Linked DNA regions of Homo sapiens: region 1 is linked to region 2. The links come from fine-mapping of genetic effects on gene expression. A gene starts in region 2. The other region holds a variant in brackets. All regions are shown on one strand. Distances are from middle to middle.

Region 1 (5,381 bases), 25 kb before region 2:
AGCTATTTGAGAACTGAGGGGTAAGAAAAAGAGGCAGAAAAGGGCCTCTTTCTTAGTTTAACCTATGAATAAACAGGAAATTAAACATGTTGCTATTGTCATAATCTAGTATTTTAAATTTCTCGCACTTTTGATTTTTAAATTGAAGTTTAGATAAAAGGTGGATTATACAACTTCTTAAAAGTAACGAAGGCAAATACAGGCATACCTCATTTTATTGCATTTCACTTCATTGTGCTTCCCAGATACTGTATTTATTACAAACTGAAGGTTTGTGGCAACCCTGCATCAAGCGTATCTGGGGGTGCCATTTTCCAAAGTGCTCACTTTGTGTCTCTGCCATATTTTGGTAATTCTCCCAATATTTCAAACTTTTTCATTACTATTACATCTGTTATGCGAAATGTGATCTTTGATATTACTACTGTAATTGTTTTGGGGCACTACAAACTGCACCATATGAGACAGCAAACTTAATGGATAAATGTTTGTTCTCATTGTTCCATCAATGAGCCATTCCCCCATCTCTCTCCCTCACGTCAGACCTCCCTATTCCCTAAAACACAAGAATATTGAAATAAGGCCAACTAATAACCCTAAATGGCCTCCGAGTGTTCAAGTGAAAGGACATCACACATCTCTCACTTTAAATCAAAAAGTGGATATTAAGCTTAGTGAGAAAACATGTCAAAAGCCCAGACAAGCTGAAAGCTGGGCCTCTTGTATTAGCTAGCCGAATTGTAAATGCAAAGAAAAAGTTATTCAAGGAAATTAAAAGTGCTACTCCAGTGAACATACAAATGGTAACAAAGAAAACAGCCTCACTGCTGATATGGAGAAAGTTTTGCTGATATGGTCTGGATCGACCAGCCACGACATTGCCCTAAACCAAAGCCTAATCCAGAGCAAAGCCCTAACTCTTTTTAAGTCTATGAACCTCCAGAGAGGTGAGAAAGCTACAGAAGAAACGTATGAAGGTTAACAGCGGTTAGTTCGTGAGGTTTAAGGAAAGAAGCTGTCCCATAACATAAAAGCACAATGTGAAACAGCAAGTGTGAATCTACAAACTGTAGCAAGTTATCCAGAAGACCTAGCTAAGATCACTGATGAAGGTGACTAAACTAACAGACTTTTCAAGGGTGACAAAACAGCCTTATACTGTATTGGAAGAAGATGCCATCTAGACTTCCATACCTAGAGAGGAGAAGTCAATGCCTGGCTTCAAAGCTTCAAAGGATAAGCTGACTCTCTTGTTAGTGGCTAACGCAGCTGGTAACTTTAAGTGGAAGCCAATGCTTATTTACCATTCCAAAAATCCTACCATCCTTAAGAATTATGCAAAATCTACTCTGCCAATGCTCTAGAAATAGAACAACATATTTGGATGACAGTACATCTGTTTACAGCATGGTTTACTGAATAAGCTCACTGTTGAACCTACGGTTTAGAAAAAAGATTCCTTTAAAAATATTATGTACGGCTGGGTGCGGTGGCTCACGCCTGTAATCCCAGCACTTTGGGAGGCTGAGGCAGGCGGAGCACCTGAGGTCAGGAGTTCGACACCAGCATGGCCAACATAGCGAAACCCCGACTCTACTAAAAATCCAAAGAAATTAGCCAGGCATGGTGGCATGCACCTGTAGTCCCAGCTACTTGGGAGGCTGAGGCAGGACAATCACTTGAACCTGGGAGGCAGAGGTTGCAGTGAGCTGAGATCACACCACTGCATTCCAGCCTGGGCAACAGAGAAAGACTCCATCTCAAAAAAAAAAAAAAAAAGTACTTACTGCTCATTGACAGTGTACCTAGTCACCAAAGGCTCTGATGGAGATTGTTGTTTTTATGCCTGTTAAGATAGCATCCATTCTGCAGCCATGAATCAAGAAGTAATTCTGATTTTCAAATCTTATTATTTAAGAAATACGTTTTGTAAGGCTATTTCTGCATTAAATAGAGATTCCTCCAATGGATCTGGGCAAAGTAAACTGAAAACCATCTGGAAACAATTCACCATGCTAAATGCCATTGAGAACATTTGTGATTTATGAGAGGAGGTCAAAATATCAACACGAGCAAATGTGGAGGAAGTTGATTCCTACCCTCATGGATGACTTTGAGAGGTTCAAGACTTCACTGGAGAAAGTAACCGCAAATGTGGAAGAAAAAGCAACAGAACTAGAATTAGAAGTGGAGCCTGGACTAGGTGCAGTGGCTCATGCCTCTAATCCCAGCACTTTGGGAAGCCAAGGAGGCTGGATCACTTGAGCCTAGGAGTTCGACACCAGCCTAGGCAACATAGCAAAACCCCACCTCTACAAAAAAACAAAATACAAAAATTAGCCGGGTGTGGTGGCACACACCTGTAGTCCCAGCTACTTGAGAGGCTGAGGTGGGAGGATCACTTGAGCCCAGGAGACAGATGTTGCAGTGAGCCATGATTATACCACTGCACTCCAACCTGGGCGACAGTGAGACCCTGTCTCAAAAAAAAAAAAAAAAAAAAAAAAGTGAAGCCTGAAGATGTGGCTGCACTCTCTCACAATCAAACTTAAACGGATAAGGAGCTGCTTCTTATGGATAAGAAAGTTGTTTCTTGACATAAAATCTATTTCTGGTAAAGATGCTGAGAACACTGTTGAAATGACAAAGAGTTTAGAATATTATATAAACTTAGTTGTTACAGCAGCAATAGGGTTTGAGAGAAATGACTTCAATGTTGAAAGAAGTTCCACTGTGGGTAAAATATTATCTATCAAACACATCACATGCTACAGAGATATGTTTCATGAAAGGAAGTGTCAACTGATGTGGCCAACTTCACTGTTGTCTTATTTTAAGAAAGTGACAAAGCCATCCCAACCTTCAGCAACCACCACCCTGATCAGTCAGCAGCCATCAACATTGAGGCAAGACTCTCCACCAGCAAGATTACAACTCACTGAAGGCTCAAATGCTCATCTGCATACTTTAGCAATCAAGTATTTTTTAATTAAGATATGTACTTTTAAAAGACATAATGCTATTATGTACTTAATAGAATACAGATAGTATAAGGCTGGGCATGGTGGCTCCCCTCTGTAACCCCAGCACTTTGGGAGGCCAAGGCAAGAGGATCACTTGAGCCCAGGAGTTCAAGACCAGCCTGGGCAACAAAACGAGACCCGATCTCTACAAAAAAATTTAAAAATTAGCCAGGCATGGTGGCACACGGCTACAGTCCCAGTCCCCTAGGATTGCTTGAGCAATCCTAGGAGGGCAAGGCTGCAGTGAGCTGTGATTGCACCACTGCACTCCAGCCTGGGCAACACAGCAAGACCTTGTCTCA[A/AAAAAT]AAAATAAAATAAAATAAAATAAAATAAAATAGACTACAGTATAGTGTACACATAACTTTCATATGCACTAGGAAATCAAAAAATTGACATGACTCGTTTATTGTGATATTCGCTTTATTGCAGCAGTCTGGAACAGAACTTACAACATCTCTGAGGTATGCCTGTATGTTTAAAACTAAAATGTATTTAAATTACATAATTATTTCATTGTTTTAAGGGGTGTGGAGAGCCTCTAAGAGTAAGTTTCTTTATATACTTAAATTGAAACAGAAAAGTTTGCTAGCCATCCTGATAATAGTAATCCTCTTAAACTTGGCCAAAATATTCTTCAATATACCCATAATTAGCCGTTCAAATCAGACACGGTTAATCTTCTGATTCAACCAGTAAGGAGAATGACTAAAAATTTATTTTCAACTCAAATGGCTGAAATATTAATCTATAAATATAGAAACAATTCATGTAAAATATATTCCTCATATGAAATCAGAGTCATGAAAAATGTTCGTAACAGATAATTCATTTTGTAGAAAACAAGGGTAATATTAATGAATTCAGTTGATGAGTGACTTAAATAACTGTTTAAACAATGTAATCAGACCTACTATAGTATAACCAATAGAAAGACTGTTCCTGTCATCCTTATTAGCACAATCTCTAATTATGACTTGATTTTATACTTTGTAATTACCCACATAAATTCACGCTAACACTTCAGCACCATAAATAATATAAAGCAGTAATTCTCAAACTTGAGCATGCATCAGAATCACCTTGAGGGCTTGTTAAAACACAACTTGCTAGGTCCTACTTTCCAGTTTCTATTTCAGTAGGTTTGGGGTAGATTCTGAGAATTTCCAACAAATTTATAGGTGATGCTGATGCTGCTGTTCTAGAAACTACATTTTGAGAACTACTGATACAGTAATGATTAAGACAAAGACTCTGGAATCAAAAAAACCTTACTCCTCAGCCTGGGCAACATGGTAAAATCCTGTCTCTACAAAACAAAACAAAACAAAAATTAGCGGGGCATGGTGGTGTGCACATGTAGTCCCAACTACTTGGGAGGCTGAGGTGGGAGAATTGCTTGAGCCTGAGAGGTCAAGGCTGCAGTGAGCTGAGATCGCTCTACTGCACTCCCGCCTGGATGACAGAGCAAAACCCTGTCTCAAAAAAAAAAAGCAACCGTCTCTGGACAGTGGTGGGGTTTGATGGGAAAGTGGCATGACAGAATCTTGTGGAGTATGTGTAACGCTCTGAAGTCTTGACAGGGGATTAAGTCACACAGGTATGTCCACATTTAACAAAACTCCATATACACAAGATTTGGGAATTTTATTTTATTTTATTTTATTTATTTATTTATTTGAGACAGAGTCTTGCTCGTCGCCCAGTCTGGAGTGCCATGGCGCGATCCTGGCTCTGGCTCATTGCAACCTCCATCTCCTGGGTTCGAGTGATTCTTCTGCCTCAGCCTCCCGAGTAACTGGGATTACAGACACGTGCCACCACGCCCTGCTAATTTTTTTATTTTTAGTAGAGACGGGGTTTCGCCATGTTGGCGAGGCTGGTCTCGAACTACTAACCTCAGGTGATCTGCCCACCTCGGCCTCCCAAAGTGCTAGGATTACAGGCTTGAGCCACCGCGCCCGGCGGGAATTTTATTTATATGAATTTAACCTCAAAAGAAAAAAAAGCTGTCAACAAATATCGAGCTCTAGTTAATGATACACACATGCTGAAGTATTGAGGAGGAAGCAAACTGAGGTCTGAAATTTAACTTTGAAATGCATCAAAAGTAAGATGGACTAATGGATAGAGGGATGGAGAGATGGACAGATAAGTATTACACAGTTATAGTAAAACATTAATAGGCAGAATCATCTGGGTAAGGATTACACTGGTGATAGCTGTAAAATTCTTTCAACCTTGTTGAATGTTTAAAAGGTTTTGTAATAAAATGTTAGTTACAATCATAATAATATATATACATGTCTACAGCACTTGAATATGGCATAGAGTAGACCCTCTTACCTGCAGGAAGACATTCCA
Region 2 (5,381 bases):
AAGTAAAAAACAAAATAAAACATTTTAGAAATAGAAAAAAGCTTATAGAATAAAGATAGAAATAAAGAAAATAGGTCGGATGCAGTGGCTCATGCCTATAATCCCCACACTTTGGGAGGCCAGGAGTTTGACAGCAGCCTGGCCAACATGGCGAAACCCTGTCTCTACTAAAAATACAAAAATTAGCCAGGTGTTATGGTGTACACCTGTAATGCCAGCTACTCAGGAGGCTGAGGCACGAGAATTGCTTGAACCTGGGAGGCAGAGGTTGCAGTCAGCTGAGATAGCACCACTGCACTCTAGCCTGGGCAACAAAGCGAGACTGTCTCAAAAAAAAAAAAAGAAAAGAAAAGAAAGGAGGGAGGGAGGGAGGAAGGAAGGAAAAGAAAGAAAGAAAAAATATTTTTGTATGGCTGTACAATGTGCTTGTGTTTTAAGCTAAGTGTTATTACAAAGTCAAAAAGTTGAAAAAAAAAGGTTTGTACAGTAAAAAAGTTACAATAAGCTAATTTATTACTGAAGAAAGAAAAACGTGTTTATAAGTTTAGTATGGTCTAACTGTACAGTGTTTATAAAATCTATAGTAGCGTAATGTTCTAGGTGTTCACATTTACTCACCACTCACTGACTTATCCAGAGCAACTTTCAGTCCTGCAAGCTCCATTCATGGTAAGTGCCTTATACAGGTGTATCATTTTTACTCATTTACTGTACCTTTTCAATGTTTAGATACACCAATACTTACCATTGTGTTACAATTGCCTGTAATATTCAGTACAGTAACATGCTGAATAGGTTTGTAGCCTAGGAGCAATAGGCTATGCCAAATATCCTCAGTATGTAGTAGGCTATACTAGCTAGGTTTGTGTAAGTATAATCTATGATGTTCACACAACAAAATTGCCTGACACATTTCTCAAAACATATTCCCATTGTCAAACAACACATGACTGTACTGCACACCTTCCTGGAAGTAGAAAAATTTTTGACTAAAGTTTCATTTGGATTCCAGAAGAAATATGCTATAGTTTTGGATATACATTTTTTTTCCTGTCTGTTCACCCAAAGTGAGCCTCACTCATACAAAAACTGGGTGGTTCTGCCCTGGTGGAATATAGACCAAATGCCCATATGGGTGTAATATGTGACCGATACGGCCCATTCCTAGGTAATCAACATTATTTTCTCTTCCACCATTCCTTAACGTGCATCCTAAAGCCTCCACTACTGTCAAGCTAAATTTGATCCCCACCTTCTGCAAATTATGGCTCCCATATTTTTAGTGACTCCAGCACAATATTCCTTAACTGTAACGTTTCCTTTTCTTCAGTACAAAATATACCCCTCCTACCCCTTTCTCCAGATTTCCACTTCATATTGATCTTTTCCTCCACTGAAACCAGTGGCACTTAACTATTGCCTTAAATTGTAAACTATCTCTAAGGAAGCATATTTGTCTTCCCTACTAGTTCTAAACTCCTGGGAGCACAGATTTGATCTTGTACTTCCCTGTATTTCCATATTTCCACAAGGCTTAGGGATATAACCATGTACATTTTAGAAAATAGATAAATATTGCTGGGCGCAGTGGCTCACGCCTGCAATCCCAGCACTTTGGGAGGTCGAGGCTGGTGGATCACCGGAGGTCGGGAGTTCGAGACCAGCCTGACAAATATGGAGAAACCCCATCTCTACTAAAAATACAAAATTAGCCGGGTGTGGTGGCGCAAGCCTGTAATCCACCTACTCAGGAGGCTGAGGCAGGAGAATTGCTTGAACCCAGGAGGCGGAGGTTGTGGTGAGCCGATATTGAACCATTGCACTCCAGCCTGGGCAACAAGAGCGAAACTCCATCTCAAAAAAAAAAAAAAAAAAGAAAATAGATAAATATTTGTAGTTCTATGATTACTAAATATATCTACACTGACCTATATATACCTGTATAAAGATATATACCTGTACTATACTATATACCTATATTGTCCAGTATCATGTTGCCCACTGTCAAGAAACAAAATTTCATCAAATTTAGTTTAAAGTTCTTGGCCAGGCATGGTGGCTCACGCCTGTAATCCCAGCACTTTGGGAGGCCGAGGTGGGCAGATCACCTGAGGTCAGGAGTTTGAGACCAACCTGGCCAACACGGTGAAACCCTGTCTTTACTAAAAATACAAAAATTACCCGGGCATGGTGACACACTCCTGTAATCCCAGCTACTCGGGAGACTGAGACAGAAGAATTGCTTGAACCCGGGAGGCAGACGTCATAGTGAGCCAAGATTGTGCCACTGCACTCCAGGCTGGGCAACAGAGTTAGACTGTCCTCTGTCTCAAAAAAAAAAAAAAATCGAATTGGCTTTTATTAGTGATTCATGAATCAGGCAGCATCTCATCTATAAAACAGAAAAGTGTTCTAATGAGCTGAGCAGAAGGGGTTGGGCTTATAGGCAGAAAAGGGCTGAAGAAAGCAGAAATAAGGAACAAAAAGCAGATTGGTCATTTTGAAGTTACTTTCCTCAAAGAGTTACATCAGAGGGGACTTCTTTATCATGCCAGCTCAGGTATATGGGCCCCTTCTCCTATTTGTTGGAAAACTGACCCCTTTTAAAGCTGAGTTTAATTACGCAGCACCTAGGACAAGTTGCCTCCATTCTGGTTTTGTCTGCTCTCTTGAGGCCTAGTGCCAGAGTTCTGTCCAAAACAACGACCTCCCATAAACTTTATTTAACACCATTGATCTTTTTTCCTACGTCTAAGTCACCCCAACTGTTATAAATTCCTATTACAAAGGGATCCCTGCTATGCTAATTGCAACCTTTGGGGTCTAACCGTGCTGTACACACACACACACACACACACACACACACACACACATGCTCAACAAATTTATGCTATTTGATAAGAGGCAATTTGACGTCAAGAGAAGAACTGTTTGGCCTAGGCTCTATGCCAAGTCTTGGTTGTGCCACTAACCGTGAAACATACCCTCTCTGACCTTCAGTTTTCTGGCTGCAGACCTATTTTCCCAGGGGTGCCAGGGAGGGAGGATAGGCAACTGGTCCATTCGTTTATCCTCCCCACCTTCCCGGCGCAGCCTTCTCAGGGAAACTCCGCCTCAAGGCTGGGGACTGGAGGAAGGGTGGTGGGGCCACGGTGGCCATCTTTGTGCGGGGCGACCCGCCGCCCACGTGCTGCGGCTCCCGGGCCATCTTTGTGCGGGGCCGCGCTTCCGCCAGCGCCGCAGCGGGGAATCTGCAGTAGGTCTGCCGGCGATGGAGTGGTGGGCTAGCTCGCCGCTTCGGCTCTGGCTGCTGTTGTTCCTCCTGCCCTCAGCGCAGGGCCGCCAGAAGGAGTCAGGTGGGCTCCGGGCAGTGCCGAGCCTGCCCCTTGGGCTCGGGGTCTGGCCGGAGTCCCGAGGCGCTCCCCCGCGCGGCCGGCTCCCGGGAAGATGCCGTGGCCGCTGTAGCTCGGAGCTGGGCAGAAGGCACCGGGGCGCCTTGCGGCGGAGAGTGAGGTGCCGGGGTCTCTGCTCCTGCTCTGGACCCTGGAGAGTAACCCATTCCCCGGAATTCAGAATGACAGGGAGGAGAGGGAATTCCCCGTTCACCCGCAGGAGGCGTGGCCCGTGCTTGGCTACTCTGGACCTGCCTGAAACACTGAGGGGTCGGGGATGGGGGCAAATGTCGTGCGCGCGAGCGTGTGTGTATATGCGTTGCCAGAAGAGAAGAGGGGTTTAATGTCTGTAGCTTTTAACTGATCCTCTTTGTGGAGTTCAATTTGATTAGTAGAAAGTGAGAGTCCGCGTCACTATCCATAGCATTCTGAGGGTTGAGCATTAAGCTTGGGAATTTTCCAGTTTCTTGGACACCTGACAGCCGGATAGAGGAACAGACTTGACGTGAGCGTGGGAGTTGCACACACAAAAATTCCTCCCTAGCGTTTCGTTTCCATCAGTGGGATGGGAAGGGGATTTCTGAAAGTTTTGGTCTTCTGTTTCTTCTGTTGGTGTGGTGTCAGCAAATAACATTCAGGAAAATTTTTTTAACTCTCATTTACTTCACTTTTTAAAGGTTCAAAATGGAAAGTATTTATTGACCAAATTAACAGGTCTTTGGAGAATTACGAACCATGTTCAAGTCAAAACTGCAGCTGCTACCATGGGTGAGTTCTTTTCTTTGATGTGTCTTTGAGAGTTTAGTTGCTGTCACAGGAAGTATTCTAACATCCTTGAGAGATTTTGGTTGCAGTGGTCAGAAAGGCAAGGATGTTTTTCTATTTCTGGGGAATAAAAATGCTCTCGCATGGGAAAGGCTCAGGTGGTGTCAACCTAACCACTGACTCACTGCGGGATTCAGTGCATGTGCATCTGTTTTTCCCACTGGGCTGCAAGCTTCCTGAGGTCAGGGTCTGTGTCTTATTTGCTGTTGTCTCCCTGGTGCTAGCTGTCAGTGCGTGCTCGATAAATATTGTTGAGGAAATAAACCCATCTATCGCTGAATCTAGTCCTAAATTTCCTGATGGTTATCTTTAGAAAATGCACATCAGGCTGGGCATGGTGGTTCATGCCTGTAATCCCAGCACTTTGAGAGGCCAAGGCAGGTGGATCACCTGAGGTCAGAATTTCGAGACCAGCCTGGCCAACATGGTGAAACCCTGTCTCTACTAAAAATACAAAAATTAGCTGGGCATGATGGCACGTGCCTGTAATCCCAGCTACTCGGGAGGCTGAGGCAGGAGAATCGCTTGAACCCGGGAAGCAGAGGTTGCATTGAATCCAGATCATGCCACTGCACCCCAGCCTGGGTGACAGAGTGAGACTCCGTCTCAAAAAAGAGAGAGAATGCACATCAGGGCCGGGATGAGGTATGGTAGAAAGATAACTCTGAAAACAGACTTGGGTGTTGGTGCCGGTACTCCCACTGGTTACCCCTGTGCCGAGCCACTTCAACTCCTCTGGGTCTCAGATTCTTCATCAGCTAAATAACAGGGTCTTTTAAGCTCCTTTTTATGTTATTTTTGACTCCTCAAAAAATTCCTTGGATGCTTATGATACTTATTGAAAACTTACTATGCACTCACTTTAAAAGGAATACAAAATAGTGTAATTTTGGTTACTGCTGTCACGCTACCAGAGTAAGGGCTTGTGGGGGAGAGTGTGGACCAGACAGACCAGAACAAGAGAGTCAGTGCTAGACTGTAAGGCGTAAACTTCACCTCCTGTGGGATTGGGAGGAGATGCCAGGAGGACTGAAGTGACTAGAAGGACACAGGTGTGGCATGAGTAGCGAAAGAGAAATACAGAACTGCCAAGGGAGGGGCAATCCAGATGGAAGGAGGAAGAAGAGACATTGACCCGCTTTTTACTTTTTATTGCTTTATTGC

Evidence for each region. PIP is the estimated chance that this variant, and not a neighbour inherited with it, causes the effect. A credible set is the group of variants that fine-mapping cannot tell apart.
Region 1: its variant is the best candidate, but not a certain one, in a credible set for the expression of POGLUT1 in monocytes after interferon gamma (Fairfax 2014, PIP 0.62).

Annotation. Positions count from the first base shown.
Region 1 is chr3:119,440,581-119,445,961 of GRCh38, forward strand. The region is part of intron 5 of TMEM39A (transmembrane protein 39A); the gene reads right to left. Among named protein-coding and RNA genes, the nearest start is that of TMEM39A, 20 kb to the right of the region's middle. The variant A/AAAAAT (reference allele first, on the strand shown) is at 3,326.
Region 2 is chr3:119,465,751-119,471,131 of GRCh38, forward strand. POGLUT1 (protein O-glucosyltransferase 1) reads left to right here and starts at 3,213. Exons shown (of 11, transcript NM_152305.3): 1 at 3,213-3,356; 2 at 4,070-4,160. The coding sequence starts at 3,272. RefSeq lists enhancers at 2,877-3,377, 3,070-3,239 and a silencer at 3,290-3,489.